Linked DNA regions of Homo sapiens: region 1 is linked to region 2. The links come from fine-mapping of genetic effects on gene expression. A gene starts in region 2. The other region holds a variant in brackets. All regions are shown on one strand. Distances are from middle to middle. Region 1 overlaps FAM133B (family with sequence similarity 133 member B). Region 2 holds the start of RBM48 (RNA binding motif protein 48).

What was found.
Region 1: its variant is fine-mapped to the expression of RBM48 in whole blood (TOPMed, PIP above 0.99). The same link has a PIP of 0.9 or more in cerebellar hemisphere.

The regions. Positions count from the first base shown.
Region 1 is chr7:92,584,086-92,587,115 of GRCh38, reverse strand. The region is part of intron 1 of FAM133B (family with sequence similarity 133 member B); the gene reads left to right. Among named protein-coding and RNA genes, the nearest start is that of FAM133B, 4.8 kb to the left of the region's middle. The variant A/T (reference allele first, on the strand shown) is at 1,589.
Region 2 is chr7:92,527,702-92,530,201 of GRCh38, reverse strand. RBM48 (RNA binding motif protein 48) reads right to left here and starts at 1,407. Exons shown (of 5, transcript NM_032120.4): 1 at 1,278-1,407; 2 at 536-726. The coding sequence starts at 1,388. It overlaps PEX1 (peroxisomal biogenesis factor 1), which reads left to right and starts at 1,682. Exons shown (of 24, transcript NM_000466.3): 1 at 1,682-1,895. The coding sequence starts at 1,767. RefSeq lists enhancers at 1,104-1,483, 2,084-2,263 and a silencer at 1,624-1,853.

The DNA of each region.
Region 1 (3,030 bases), 57 kb before region 2:
TTGAACAGAAAGTACAGAGGGTTCCCATATACCTCCACACTTGTGCAGCTCTACCATTATCAACATTCGCCAGCACCAGCAGGGTGGTACATTTGTTACATTTCATGAACCTACATCGACACATTATCATCACCCAGAGTCAGTAGTTTGCATTAGGGGTCACTCTTGGTATGCATTCTTGTACAGTTTTTATAACTGAACGTTTTAATTCAGGACTTGTAAAGGGCTCTTAAGTTCATGATGGCCACCTTTTGTGCTTGTTATTTTCCGAAGTGTTCTTCATGTTCTTTTCTGCTACTTTGGGACCTCTAAAATAGATGTATCCTCTAGATAAAAATAGGTAATCAAATTGACAAATGAAATTCTGCACATTGTGTCTTTAGCCAGTTTTACTGCATTGCTCTTTTTGTACCTGCCCCCATACATATCCCCTTGAGACCAATTTGCCATCCTGAGTTTCAGAAACAAATCATTTTCTGTTATCTGAACTCATGCAGCAGTTTGAAGCCACAGAGAATTCTAGTTACATATGGATGTGAATGTTTGATTTACAAGGTCACAGTGTTTATAATGATTAAGTCATAGTGAAATGTTTCAAGAAATTGCACAATCTCTATATTTTAGTGAATGCTTAACCATGCCACCCACTTAATGTTAGAAGCATTATTTTTCACACTGATACAAAAATGAAAACTCCTGTACCTTTGTGAAAATAGTTGCTTGTTTTAAAAGCTTTCTGTTGTGCATAGTTTTAAAGAAAAGTATTGTTGCTTAATGAATAAGAGCAGACTATCAAGTGTTTTGCATGGAGCCTAGAACATAAGATGCACTTTAAAAAATATTGCTATTATAATTGAAATAAACAATGGAGATATTTGGAGTGTACTTAAGCAGACTGAGATAGTGTTTGTGGTCAAAAGCTTAAAAGTAAGCCTTATTCAGCAGTAGTTCATGTAATTGTACCCGTAGTCCTAGCATGTGAATATACTACTTTACTAGCATTTTCCTCTGAAAAGTAGGAATAGGTTGGTATGTACTTTATGAAAGCAGTTTGATAGTACACAGTAAGATGTAAAAATATTAATGTACTTTAAAGATACATGCTAGATAACTTGAAGACTGTAAAACATGGTAAATGTTATAATTTTTTTCATTAGAATGAAAAATTGCCACTGCATTATCTGTGAATTTTTACATAAGGACAGTTCAGCTCTCTGAGTTGGAGTGGCAGTATTGTGGTTGGATTTTTGTCATTTTCTTTACCTTTATTACTATAATAATGTTTACGCAGTTACATTTTTTGTTTTATAAAGGTAATCATTATTTAAAATTTTTTTCTCCAGTGTGTGAATGAATATGGATGTTTTCCTTTATATTTTGGTGCACATGCAGTCTAATTTTTCTGATTTTTAAATTTTTAGTTATTTATTAAAATAATTCTTTCATTTTGGCAACTTGCCTTTGCTTTTCACTTGAGAAATCTTAAACATTTTCTTATCAGGAACTATGGATCTACTTCATTCATTTTAGTAGCTACGTAATATTTAACAGGGTGTGTACTTTAATATATTTAGCGAATCCCAGTTTG[A/T]TAGCTATTTGGGTGTTTTCAGTGTTTGCTGTTTTAGTAATTTAGACCTGAATATCCTTGATATGTGTATATTTGCACTCTTTGGAAATAAACAGTTTTTACAATTCTAACCTGAAATATTTTGCCATTAGGTACTGCCAAAATTATGACATGATACCAAGGAAATTAGAATGTGATCAATATTGTTGAAAACAAAAACAAAAACCTGAGACCAGTTAAATTTAACAAAGGTAATTTGAGCAAGAAAAAGATTCTAGAACTTGAGGAAGATGTTCTACATCCTGGTGACCTATATTTGCAATAGGAAATGACATACAGAGATTACCTGATTGGTGCAGTTCTGAGTTTGCCTTATTTGGGCATAATTTGGCAGCCTTCTGTTTGGGATTGGTTGAGGGTTGGGCTCCTGTGATTGGCTGAGACTCAGTTGATTGGTTAAGAGGATATACTCTTTGATTAGGTTAGAACTTGTTTGCACATCAAGCCAGGTTGCAGTTCACCATATACAGAGGGTTTTTGTTTTGTTTTGTTTTGTTTTGTTTTGTTTAGTAGAGACAAGATTGGTCTCTCCTGAGCTCAAGCTCCTCCCACCTCACCCTCCCAAAGTGCTAGATTACAGGTGTGAGCCAGTGCACCTGGCTTTTTGGGCCAAATTTTATTACCCAAGTAGGAGGACGCTTTGAGCCCAACTTAACTGTGTTGAACAGTACAAATAATACTCCTGTTTTACAAACGGTGAACTAAGCTGCACATGGTACTTGCCTTCATTGTCTTCATTTCTGCCTTCATTGTTTGTCATACTTCCACACCAACTAATCGAAATGCTTAGCAAAAGCAGTTGAATGAAATATTTGAGGGTATAACAGTTTATACAAAAAATATAACAATATGCCTCTGTCTTTAACATTGCATATGATGTCCACATCTTGCCCTGATTCTGTAAACATTCCTTACATGAGGGGCTCTAGCATTTGTTCCTGCTTGTAGAGAAGTATGTCAAAGATTTATCTTTTTCATTCCAAGTAATTAGGTTTTGTCAGTTGAATGGTAATAGTTCTCAGTATGTGTTGTTTATGCTGGTTTTATATTGTTTACTCTGACAGAGAAATCTGGAAGTATATAACTTTTATCTGTTATAAAGGTGGGAAATGATGGTCATTTTCATAGATTTTGTTAAAATGCAACAAATATATTTTTTCCTTTCACTTATTTTGGATTATTACAAGGTATAACACCTTAAACCAACCTTGAGGGTAGTCATTTTCAATCAAAATTCTTTTTATTTAAAAAGTAGAAGAGTTTCATAAATGTCTATTGACTGGGCACGGTGGCTCACACCTGTTGTCCTAGCTACTCAGGAGGCTGAGGTAGGGGGATTTTTCAAAGTTGCAGTGAGATATGATCACACCACTGACCACTGTACTCCAGCCTGGGCAAAAGAG
Region 2 (2,500 bases):
AATTTTTTTTTTTTTTTTTTTTTTGAGGCAGAGCTTCCCTCTTGTTGCCCTGTCTGGAGTGCAATGGCGCAATCTCGGCTCACTGCAACCTCTGCCTCCCGGTTTCAAGCGATTCTCCTGCCTCAGCCTCCCGAGTAGCTGGGATTACAGGCCTGCGCCACTAGACCCAGCTAATTTTGTATTTTTAGTAGAGAGGGGGGTTTCACCATGTTGGCCAGGCTGGTCTCAAACTCCTGACCTCGTGATCCGCCCACCTCGGTCTCCCAGAGTGCTGGGATTGCAGGCGTGAGCCACCGTGCCTGGCCAAACCCAACTTCTACTCTACCAAGCTACAGGACATTAAATTGTTAAGCATGGGAATGATGTGATGGATACAGTGTTTCAGTAAAGTTAACTTTTAAAAAGGCTGGAGGAAGATATGCTAGATTACGTTTTGGGGTAATTCAGTTATGAATGAGGGAAACTTGGGGCCAAAATGACAGAAATATGAATGGAAGAAATGAGGAAATGAGTCATTTCTTAACTTGCACATTACCTTGCACTTTGTAAGTTCATAAATTTAATAAGATAAACTTCAGTAAAGTCTTCTGCTGGGTATTCATCTAGAGCATTGTACTGTTCAATTGCACCATATAAAGCGAATCGCTCAACTAATTCCTTCATGACTCCCACAGCAGGAACTCCTTGTATTAATAAGTACTGAGATTCCAAATTGATTGTATATACCTGAAAGAAATGCAGAGTTATTAAACGTATTTCGCAAATAAGCCTAGGACGAATCTGCCTCTATTTTTTTTTAAAGAGAACTTTGAAAACAAGAAATAATCTGTTCAACCCAGTCAGCAAAAGAACACAAAATGAAATTTCTGCCATTCCTTCTGCATAAAGAATAACAGTCCATGTGAGAGGCTACCTAAGGCATATAACAGACTACCTTCAGTCGACATTTTTTTCCAGAAATTGAGTCGGTAGAAGTCACTGGGAACAATCACTCAACGAATATTCACTGAGTGCTTACCTGTGCCAAGTAGTACTGTAAACACAGAAGATCCAATGACTAAAACCAAGGCCTATTCTCGTGGAGTTGATGTTCTAATACTTGACCAAAGGCGTCGTGAGAATCTTTGGTAACTGACCGAGGGTTCTTCACGCCAGCTCTAACGAGAGACAGATCTGACGGAAGCCTTGTCGTGCCTTTATTTCCGTAGGCTGGTCATATGGCGCTAGCACTCACATAAAGCTACCGAGGAGAGCGAATGAAACCAAAATCACTTTACCTTCACAGCACGAGGCCGTCGTCCCTCTCGATATTTGGCCCGTGTGTCGCATACCGCCCTCTGGACGTGGTGATCAAATAAACTCCCTAGCTCCCCGCCGCTCGACGCCATCTTGCCTACTTTGATCCTCGCAGGGAGGACAACATCCGCCCTACTGAGCTCCCTTTTATCCAATAAGAGAGCGGGATGAGTTAAGGAGTGCCAGGATTGGCTGGAGAATCGACAGCGTCGGCCATCGTTTCCTGCGTGCGAAGATTTGATGAACGAGGTGCCGCCCCCGAGCGGCTCGGCGGAGAGGCGCGGTGGGTGACAGAAGCTTTCTTGTCCCACCCACTACAGGCTTACGGCAGGATGCGCAGCGGGGAGAGGGGGCGGGGCCGCAGGGGGCGGGGCCGATCGATCTCCTCCGGCTCCGACGTCCTCGGCCTGCCGGGTCCCGGGTCCTTTGCGGCGCTAGGGTGGGCGAACCCAGAGCGACGCTCCGGGACGATGTGGGGCAGCGATCGCCTGGCGGGTGCTGGGGGAGGCGGGGCGGCAGTGACTGTGGCCTTCACCAACGCTCGCGACTGCTTCCTCCACCTGCCGCGGCGTCTCGTGGCCCAGCTGCATCTGCTGCAGGTAACCTGCCGGCCCCGAGCCACCTGATCTTCAGCCTGGGGTCGGACGAGGCCGAAGCCTCTCAGGGACGCGGCGGGACACCGGCTGCCACCCGGGCGCCGCCGAAGCGCGCAGAGATCAGGGTCCCTCGACGGCAGGGCCCTTCTGGGTAGTCTCTGGATCCCACAAGTCCAGTGCAGCCCTGGGCTCGTCTTATCCCAGGTCTTTTCACTTGGTGAAACTGAACCTAGAAACGTCCTAATATTCTACCACTGTTTTTATAAATATTCCTTATTCCAGGCTGGAAAAGCTCCTGAGAAGTGGTTTGTTTTTATTATTTTAAAAGGTGTTTTCCTTGCCAGCCATTTCCAGTTAACCTGCGCTGCTGCCGTCCGGGCCGCGAGAGCGGGACGCAGAGTTGTTGGCGGAGCCCCTGTCGGTTCCCGGGGACTAAGCACCGCGTCCCATGAGCGGGAAAGGTTAATACAATGATGGTTCTGCCCTGCGTCGCTGACGCGGAACACAGCTGTAGTGTGTTAGGAACACATAACGTAGTTAAGATCACTTGAAGCTCTGCGATCAGTCGCCCTTCTGGACGTTGTGGTTAGGATGTTTCACAGTTCTAA